Regions from separate parts of the Homo sapiens genome. Here region 1 is linked to region 2. Evidence: fine-mapped expression QTL. A gene starts in region 2. The other region holds a variant in brackets. All regions are shown on one strand. Distances are from middle to middle.

The links. PIP is the estimated chance that this variant, and not a neighbour inherited with it, causes the effect. A credible set is the group of variants that fine-mapping cannot tell apart.
Region 1: its variant is the best candidate, but not a certain one, in a credible set for the expression of C12orf75 in whole blood (INTERVAL, PIP 0.89).

Annotation. Positions count from the first base shown.
Region 1 is chr12:105,256,352-105,261,734 of GRCh38, reverse strand. No RefSeq gene overlaps it. Among named protein-coding and RNA genes, the nearest start is that of APPL2, 23 kb to the right of the region's middle. The variant G/T (reference allele first, on the strand shown) is at 2,760.
Region 2 is chr12:105,327,572-105,332,896 of GRCh38, reverse strand. C12orf75 (chromosome 12 open reading frame 75) reads right to left here and starts at 2,206. Exons shown (of 6, transcript NM_001145199.2): 1 at 1,960-2,206. The coding sequence starts at 2,005. RefSeq lists an enhancer at 581-1,124 and silencers at 1,781-1,880, 1,911-2,570.

The DNA.
Region 1 (5,383 bases), 71 kb after region 2:
AGGCTCCCAAAGCAACCCCTGGAAGGTACATGTCACATGCTGGATGGTACATGTCACATGTCGCAGACTCAGCTGTACTACAGATGGCTGGATAGGTTTTCTCTTCTTCCCTGGATTCTGATGAACTAGAGTTACTTTGTTTTCTTTTAGGAAGCAATGCCTTCAAAATATTTTGCATCCAGTTTTGACATATGATGGCTTCCATATTTATAATTTTAGTTTTGTAACAGCACTGTCCCTGTTGTTTAAATTGTTATCCAAAGGCATGATGAAAGACATCAAGACTTGTCACAGTCAACTCTAAGTTTTCTCAGGTTGTACATGTGAGCTTATATGTACATTGGAGCAAAATAGAAAACAAAGTGTAATTTGAAACCTTATATGTACGTAGTGTAGGAAATAACTATATAGTTATATATATGCAAAAGTCCATATGCAAAAGAGGTTTAGTAACTGAGGGAACCAAACGTTCATAGGAATGAGAAAATCTGAGCTGCTTCTATAATAATGCCCCATGGCTTTGCTAGGCTACTTAACTTCATAGTTTCATTTCCCCATTTGTAATACTAAACTAGGTGAGATTGCTTTTATTGCCATTATTAAAGCTGTTTTTCAGGATCTCTGGTTACTCTCCTAATGAGATTTTTAGAGTTATTTTAGCATAAATTTCATATCAGGCATACATTAGCTTATTCCACAGTACAGTATGTTTAACCTGTTTCTAAAAATGGGACCCTCTGCCCATTAACCTTATGCTAGATTTGTTCTTCAACAGGAAAAGTATCCAATATTTCAGAGGAAAAATTTGGACTATAGCAATAAATGGCCTAGCCATGTTTTACTATTGAAATTAAAAAATAACCATTGTATTCCATTCTTTTTTTTCTGGTTCCTTGGGTGCACATAGATGGGAGGAGGCAAAGTACTTTCCCTCTCCATTTTTTCCTAATTCTTTGCTTGAATCCACATATTTGAGCCAAGAACCTCTTGCCTATAGCTGGGAATGCACCCAGCAGTTGATTTTTGGCTTGTATCTGCTTGTTTCTAAGAAAGTCCTCTTTATTCACCAAGGTCCCAAACAAAAGCTGTTCTCTGTTAGACCTTTCCAGACCATCCACCGTGACCCTCCAGAAAGTCACTCATCCCTTCCCCCATATCCAATAATACTTTGAAACTACCACTGGTACAGCACAGAAGCCATTATACCACTTTTATTTAGGGAAGAACTGTTCCTTATTTATCTTTGCATTCCCAATGCCTAGATTTATTGCATATGTATCAGTGTCAGGCATAATGCTAAGTCATGTTATTATTGACTGAAAAGAATACAGTGAGGTTTTAGGGACCTCACTTAAATTCCTTGAATGTAATGAATATAATAAGGAGAAGTGGATGAGTTTGTGCAGCAAAGACTGATTTCAATATTCATTTTCCATTTCCTCCATTGTAATAGAACTCCTGGTTTCTGGCTGGACACAGGGCAATGCCAAGATAAAGACTGAATTTCCCAACCTTCTTTGCAGCTAGGTATGGCCATGTGAGTCAGTTCGGTCCAATGGGATATAAGTAAAAGTCTCATATGGCAGCTTCTGAAATCCTCCTTAAAAGAGATCTGGCAAATACCGTTTACTATTTCTTCCTTGCCCCTTTCTACTTTCTGCCTGGATTGTAGATTCAATGGCTGGAGCTGAGCAGCCTTCTTGGGCCATGATGTAACCTATGGAGGTTATATGATGGAGCTTCGGGATAGAAGGAGCCTAGATCCCTGAGGACCTCATGAAGAAAAGCTACCACATTAGCCCTAGATTGACAATTCTGGACTTTTACGTGAGAGAGAAAATCTGTGTGTTTAAGCCATGGTTATCCAGGGAGTAGGGAAGGGGGCTGTGCTACTAACATTGAACCTAATCTTGATACTGGATTGGGTTTTTCTGCTTCTTAGACAAAGTGTTTTGTAACAATCTCAAGCAACAACAACAAAAACCTTCCCTCAAAGGTTTAGATGAGGCATCTGGAATCCTTAAGCTAGAAAACTAAATTTATTAATATCACTGATTGCCCTCCCCCTAATCTTGGGCAAAAGTTAGTAGGTTTTGTTATTGCATTCTTATTGTATGCCAGAAATGATAGTATGCTTCACAAGTATGATTTTATTTTATCCTTGTAAAAACCATATGAGGTAGGGACTTGTATCATCTTCACAGTAGAGATGCTAAGTAAACAGCTGTGAGTGATCAAACAGGCCCAAAGAAAGGGCCGACTTCCCTCCTAGTCCATGCATTAATCACTGCTGGACCCTCACTGCAGGGAGGGGCTAAGGAGAGACCCTTCCTCTGTCGGCGAGGGAGCTTTACTTGCAAATTCAGTGAGCAACAATGTGGCAAATGCCAGATCATCAGGGAATGGAATTCTGCTATCAACAAGGTGACCACTGTGTACACCCCCAGGAGAAGAAGGAACTGGTTTAGGAGCTTGTCTGCTGACATCTCTATAGAGAGTCAGAGGCTAGTGAAACTCACCTCTTATGAGGAAGTCAAGGAAGGACGATGGGTCAGGAGAGAACATGGGATGGATCAAGTGGAGTGCTGCAGCACAGGCAGAGGTTGGGGAGGTCTGCCCACAGCCTAAAATGACCTCAGCCATAGAACCAAAGTCATACATAATGACACAGGCACACAGAAACCATAGAGCCAGCTTCACATTTGAAGACTGGAGAGTGAAACACCCACAAATTCATATTTAATATGAAAAGCATTCAG[G/T]AAAAAAAGATGTATACATTTTGCTACCCTGACCTCAATAACAACCCCCCAATCATAATGAAAAAGTAATTCACTCCCTTTTTATCATCTATGGTATAAACACTCATTCATTCCAGAAATATGTATTGAGAGACCACTCTGTGCATGGGCTGTACCAAGCAGGGCCTGGGGCACACGGTGGAAGGAGGGCCTCCAGCACAGTGCAGTCAGGTGGGAACACCTGCCTATAAAGAGATCCTTATAGTGCAAGGGGCCACATGCCATATGGAGGTATGTAAGGGCTGGTTGAAGCTTAAATGAGAAGCATTCCACCTTGGGGTCAGGGAAGGTCTCCAAGGAAGATGATTAAGTAGGGTCTTGAGAGATGACTTTGACATCCCACAAAACAAAAAGAAAAAAAAGGAACTCATGCTGGTTAATATAGAGGAAACACCCTCTCCCTCATAGACAGCCTACAGTAGCTCCAGGGATAGCACTATTCATGTTAGAGAATCACAATTCATGCTTATAAAAATGGCCTTAACACACCAAGAATAGAATGTTACATTCTGTCTACTCTGTTTAATAAGGCTAAGAAGAACAAAGGCACTTTTCTCCCAAGATTTTCTGATCCTCCTCAAAAGTATTTTTTAAATAACAAACTGACAATTCAGTTATATGGGGAAAAAAACATTGTATTCCTAAAAATGCTACATCAAAGGAATCTTTTCACAAGAACACTCCTTCTCCACATATTTCCATTGCTCCCATTTTTCTTAATTAAATATTTTTAATGATTACAGGTACATAATAGGTATATGTATTCATGGGGTACATGTGATGTTCTGATTCAGGCATACAATGTGTAATAATCACATCAGGGTAATTGGGGTATCAAAGACTTTTCTTCAATTACATAGCATCCCAGAAAGCAAGATTCAGGTATAGAATCACATTTTCAGGGCAGTTCAGTGTGGTGGGCAAAGCACAGGCATCAGAGTCAGCTAGATCTGAGCCCAAATCCCAACGCCACCTCCAAACTTGTCATGTAAGCCTCTGTTTCCTAATACACACAATAAGAATAATGATACATGCCTTGCGTGGTTGTCGACCTCAATTATATAAGCACCTAACACAACATCTAACATACATTAGGCCTCAATGTATGGCAGTTATCATGGTCTATGATTGTGTTGCTGTTGCTGTTACTCTATTCCAAGCATTCCAAAATGTTGTACTAGATAGGCAAAATTGCTATAGAACAATTTTCCAGCAGAGATGGACAATCCTATCTGCCTCATTTGAATCTTCAGTGACCTTCTGGGTGAGCAGAGTGACTCACAGAGCTATGACTAAGAGCCAAGTCCTCCACGGTGTGTCAAAATCATGATTTAACTTTATTCAGGAATGAGAATTCCGTGAAAACTTATTTGTGGGTTGGGAATGATTTCAAGTGGTCATTAGATCCAGCAACCTACTCTCACTTCCAATATGTCAGAGCTCATGGGAGTCGTTTAAATTAATGAAGTGCAGTGAGTGGCTGAGGCTGTAGACATGGCCAGTCTAGCCTCTAACATACCCTGGAGGGACCCAAACTATTCAACAAAGGGATCTTCATGGAGTCCAAGCTATTCCACAGTGCCTAGGACTTAACAGAGGCTTGCCGAAAGTAATGATGACCCTCATGAAACTTCTTCACCTAAAACACATCTACAACTTGATTTTCTAAATCCTCAATAGTTTCTGAAGTGAGTTTGCTCAAACTTTCCAAAATATTTCTTCTTTTAGACATGATTAAGCCTGAAAAATTTCATCCTAGCCGGGAGAACGCTAGTGAAAAATAAACTATGTATGAGTAATGTACTTCTATAAAGGAGGCCTTCGTGACATTCTTCTCTACTGGAGAACACTTTGAAATTACATGAAGGCAGAAGGTTGATGGGTCCAGGGATGGGGAGAAAAAAGGGAGAGGATGGAAAACAGACCTATGTCATCAAGAATCCAAGCATCAAACAACAAATCTGTTCTCTCTGGTTACCCAGAGTTGAGCACTGTAACCAACTGCACTCCAAATGAGCCACGTGCAGTTTTGATGACCAGATATGGTAAGTTTTGCAAAGAAATAAACCTGAAATTTGTGAGAGAAGCTATTAAGTGAGGGGAAGAGATGGAAAATGGTTGATATGGTTTGGCTCTGTGTCCCCACCCAAATCTCATCTTGAATCGTATTCCCCATGTGTCAAGGGAGGGAGGTGATTGAATTATGGGGATGGTTTCCCCGATGCTATTCTCATGACAGTGAGTGAGTTTTCACAAGATCTGACGGTTTTATAAGTGTCTGGTATTTCCCCCGCTTGCACTTCTCTCTCCTACCACCATGTGAGGAAGGTCCTTGCTTCCTCTTTGCTTTCCACCAAGATTGTAAGTTTCCTGAGGCCTCCTCAGCCATGTGGAACTGTGAGTCAATTAAACCTCTTTTCTTTATAAATTACCCAGTCTCAGGCAGTTCTTTATAGCAGTGTGAGAACATACTAGCACAACAGTATTCAACCCGTAGTGGCTTTCTGAAGTCTAAGGAGGACCTCTGTGAGAATTTAGTGAGAAGTCTTGAGCCCTGGCCCAGGAGCTGGTGCAGCTCTTGCAGC
Region 2 (5,325 bases):
CTCCTAGGGAAAAAGTCAATCAAATATTCATAAAGATAATCATATTTCCCCAAGAAATCATATTTTCCCCCCAAATTTGATTTTTACATTAACATTTTAGAGCTAGCTCATCATACCTTACCATCTTTCTATTTTCTTTTCTTTTCTTTTTTTTTTTTTTTAGATGGAGCGGAGTTCCACTCTTGTTGCCCAGGTTGGAGTGCAATGGTGCGATCTCAGCTCACTGCAACCTCCGCCTCCCAGGTTCAAGCAATTCTCGTGCCTCAGCCTCCCAAATAGCTGGGATTACAAGCAGGCGCCACCACGCCCAGCTAATTTTGTATTTTTAGTAGAGACTGGGTTTCACCATGTTGGTTACACTGGTCTCGAGTTCCTGAGCTCAGATGATCCACCCACCCCAGCCTCCCAAAGTGCTGGGATTACACAGGCATGAGTCACTGCGCCTGGTCCATCATTCTGATTTTCATTTGGCAATGGTACCCCCTCCCCATCCCTAAAACTGACAAGCAGTTCATTAATAAATCAAAATGTACATGCATGAAACTAGCCTCATTTTAAGGGAAATCTGCTACAAATCCTTCCTACAATTTTTTTTAATGTGGATAACTTTTCTTCACCTTTTTTAAGTAGGCTACACATGCAGTGGATTGCATACGGCCACAGTACCTAGTAGACTGAGACACAATTTGAGTGCGGGGTGTGGCCCTGACATTGTTTCATACAAGCAGAGCTTTCTGGCCACAGGCAGGTTTGAAGCCCGTCTGCCCTCATTAGCATAAGGTGCTACACTAACCTTCCCCACTGTTAAATGAATCTAAAAAGTTCGCTCTCCTGTGGCTCTCTGCATTGTCACCAGGACAGGATTTAATTCAAGACTCAAATTGAGTCTTAAACTCCATTTTTTACCGGCGTCTGGGTTAAGGGATGTGACAGGCCCAAGGTTACAAAGTCATTGCCAGGGCCTCCACAGCCGCCTAGGAAATACCGCAGCCTCTGACTGCTGTTTGCATTTGCTGGTTAGGCTAGGATGTGGCATCTGGTTGACTTCAATTGGAGGAGATAGGAGCTCTTTATCCAAAAGGACACTGAAATAGGTCAGCAGTTATTACTCAAAACAGATCCAGGGTACCTTAAATCCCGAGACATAGGCAGGGTGAAATAGAAGGGTGAGTTTTGGCAAAAGTCACTTGACACAAAGCCTGGCTGGCCCGGGGAAGCTAGAAGACCTTGCCTGCCAATCAACATGAAGTGGTATAAAAAGAAGTTTCTATTTGTGTGTGTGTGTGTGTGTGTGTGTGTGTGTGTTTAATGAAAAGTATCTTAACAGACTGTTAATAATAAAGCTCTGTCTCACATATGTAAAACATCCTTACTGCTGCAGCTTCTCAGAGAAATCCTAAGAGCAGCCCAGCCGGTCTTCGGCATCAAGGCAGACACAGATGCGTTTTTGCAGCTCTGCTTCTAGTTCTCCCCAACCCCACTCCCACCCTTCCCCGCTTCCTGCCCCACCACCACTGCCCGAAAAGTCCTGTCTTGCTCTGCTGCACTTTTCCAGGTGCAGCGCCTTGGTTCCGAGGAGATGGGGGAGAGGCCTGGAGGAGCAAGTGTGGGAGGTGGGGGAGCGGCCGGGGACCACGTCCGGGAATCCTCTCCCCCAGGAGAGCCCTGAGACCCGCCAGCTGCAGGTGAGCCCCGGCGGCTGCAGGGGAGCCCGCGACAGTCCTCCCCGCGCTCCCTCGGCAGAGACGCCCCGCAGGCTCGACTGCTCCAGGCGCAACCGCCCCCGCGCGGGGGACTTGCCACGCTTTCGGTCTTTCCAGAAACGGGCGGTCTGCTCCTGTCCCGAAAATGGGGACGGGGAGAGGGGGCTGCGCGCCCCCCACCCAAGATCCCTGCACCCTTCCTTCCCGCCGCCTCTCCCGCCCGCCCCCGCCGGCCCCCGCCTCCCGCCGGACTCACCTTGGCCCGCGCCCGCGCTGGTGGCGGTGGAGTTCCCGCAGCCCATCGCGCAGCCGGCCGGGGAAGCCGCGCTCCGGAGCTCTCGGCCGCGGGTCCTGGGGGCGGAGACCCAGACGAAGGGCGGCGCACCCCGAGCGGGAGGCTGACGGGGCCGCGAGGGGCCAGGAACCGAGTGGGGGCCGCCCCCTCCCACCGCCGGGAGACGCGGCCCGGGGCGCAGCGGGCTGCGGGCTGCCGGGCGGAAACCACCCGGCACCCCTCGCCCCGGCCCCGCCCCGCCCGGGGACCCGCCGGACCCACCCGTCGCCCCAGCAACCTCGGCACTGGCCAATCCCCAGCCTCCTGCGCGCTTCGCGGTCGGCCATTGGTCGTTATTACGAGGGGCGGGAGTTTAAAGTGGGCCCCGGGGCGAGGGAGCGGCAAGGGGCGTGGCCGGCGCAGCGGGGTGGGGGTGCCCACCTGCCCACCCTCAGCATCCTCCTCGCCTTGTCTTTGCTTTTCTTTCCTCACTTCCCCTCCCTGCCCCAGGATGTGGGGAGGAGAGGAAGTAGCAGGGGGCACCCTGCACAGTGGACGCCCAATAAATGCTATTGACTGAATGTTGTGCAGGTCTGAAGCCAAAACCGAAATCCCCAGCTGCTTTAACAGAAGGCCAACGCAGCTCTGTTCCCCATACGCACTGCCTGGCAAAAGTTCTTCCCCAGATTGGTCATCTTGACCTATTCCTCTTTAAAACAAATGTCTGCAACGATTTCAATAACTTGGATTCAGGACCTCCTCTCTGATAAATGAGAGAACTGTGGATGGGCACGGTGCTGTACGTTTCAACATGATAGTTGGGCCAGCGTTACTGCAGTCAGACTGTCTGAGTTAAAGTCTTCGTTCTGCCCCGTGATAGCTGCGTGACCTCAGGAAAGTAACTTAACCCATTGGGTACATCCCTTGTTTCACCTATAAAATGACAGTAACTCAGGTACATATAAAGTACCTAACAAAGTTCCCTATCTTTAGTAAATATCAGCTATTATCATTATTATTATTAACTCTAATAGAAATGAATACAAATTCCTTAAAGGGAAAGACTATCTGATTTTTCATAGCGTCCTCCTGGCTTGTAATACAGACTCACTAAATGTTTTGTGAGGTGACTTCAAGCCAGGAATTAAAGCTCCATTTTAAATTCACTTAATATTTGTAGGGAGCCTAGCCTGTGCCAAGTCCTTTGTTAAGTTCCGGGGATACAAATATGTGGGAGACAGTCTAACCAGGCAGATAGATTAAAATAAATTAATTACAATATAGAAGGAATGTTAACAGAGGAATACAGGTGCCATAGAGTCCCAGAGGATGCTGGGATGCTAGTTAAAAGACTTGCCTAAGGCCAGGCATGGTAGCTTACACCTGTAAACTAGCACTTTGGGAGGCTGACACGGGCGGATCACGAGGTCAGGAGTTCGAGACCAGCCTAACATGGTGAAACCCTGTCTCTACTAAAAATACAAAGATTAATTGGGTGTGGTGGCATACACCTGTAATCCCAGCTACTTAAGAGGCTGAGGCAAGAGAATCACTTGAACCTGAGAGGTGGAGGTTGCAGTGGGCCGAGATAGCACCACTGCACTCAAGCCTGGGTGACAAAGCGAGATTCTGTCTCAAAAAAACAAAACAAAACAAAAAAAAAACAGACTTCCCTGAAACCATACTGTTGTGTTTACATAAAAATAAAAATATGAACCAGAATCAAGGACTTGGCAGGTTTTTGAACATGGCCTTTGAGGCAATGGTGCGTTCTATCATTCAGGATGCAAAATATACAGCATTCTCCATTTGAAAATTAGCTGTGGTAGCCATGTGCTGAGAGGATAATTAATTCTTGGATAAATAAAGGCATTTTTTAGTTGACTTCTAGAAGTACTGCTTCTCTACCAGCCTGTGCTGTCTTGGTTCAGTGTCCATCCTAATACATAGCCAGAACTGGGGAAAAGGGAACTATCAAGTAGCCGAAAGATATTCTCCTGCTTATTTCTGTGCTGACACTAGACTCCAGCCTTAGGACACTTGTAAGAGACAGAAAATGGACCTTGACACCTAGAAACTGGCCTAGAAGCTGTGACACTCAACAGCTGGGCCTTTGCATTCTCCTGTTAAACACAGTTGCATAGAACACCAATATCACACAAGGCCACTCTATAAACTATGAAATGAGACAAAAAACAAGGTGACTCGGTAATCTTGTCTAAGTGCTGACAAAAACAAGGTCATTGTGCAAACCCCCAAAACACCAAACATCTCCCCATCCTGCCTGATAGGATTGTCTGCTGCTGCTTTACCAGTTATGGTTTTAGCCCTGTTCTTGTCTTCCTGCCTAGAGATGAGGTTCATTAAGAATCTCTAATCATAGAATTGTCCCTGCTTCCTGACAATATCCAATGTAGAAAAAAAAAAAAGTTCTGCTTCCTTAAATCCCAACCAAAATCACCTATTATGAACCTAAATCCTGTAGGTTCTTTTCTAACACTCACTTACTGAGATATCTCATGGTTCCTCGTAGTGTGCATTCTGCCCTATAATGTTATAGATTATGTGATCTATCCATTATTTCAACAAGCACTATTGAGTATCACCTTAAGAGCTCCAGCCATGAGGACTTACCTGTTGGGTACAATGTACACTATTTGGGTGATGGTTACACTAAAAGCCCAGACTTCACCACCACCCAATACATCCGTGTAACAAAAATGCACTTGTACCCCCAATCTGTTTTTAAAGTGCCAGCCACTCTTCTAAATGTTTGAGAGACAGCAGTGAACAAGAGAGAGAGGAAAAATCAAGTGGGAGGAGATACATCAAAGCAAATACAATCAGATAATTTTAGATACAAGTGCGATGGGAAAAAATAAGTCACTGGAATAGGAGACTAGGAGTAGAGGGAGAGGTGCTATTCTAGATATAAGGTTGGTGCAAAAGTAATCACAGTTTTTGCTATTACTTTTAATGGCAAAAACTGCGATTACTTTTGCACTAACCTAATAGAATGGTCACAGAAGGCCCTCTGAAGAAAGGATATTTTTGTGAGGTGTGGTTGATGTAAAGAAATCAGACATTGGCCGGGTGCGGTGGCTCACACCTGTAATCCCAGCACTTTCAGAGGCCGAGGAGGGCAGATCACAAGGTCAGGAAATCGAGACCATCCTGGCTAACACGGTGAAACCCCATCTCTACTAAAAATACAAAAAATTAGCCAGGCGTGGTGGCGGGCACCTGTAGTCCCAGCTACTCAGGAAGCTGAGGCCGGAGAATGGCATGAACCTGGCAGGCGGAGCTTGCAGTGAGCCAAGATCACACCACTGCACTCCAGCCTGGGTG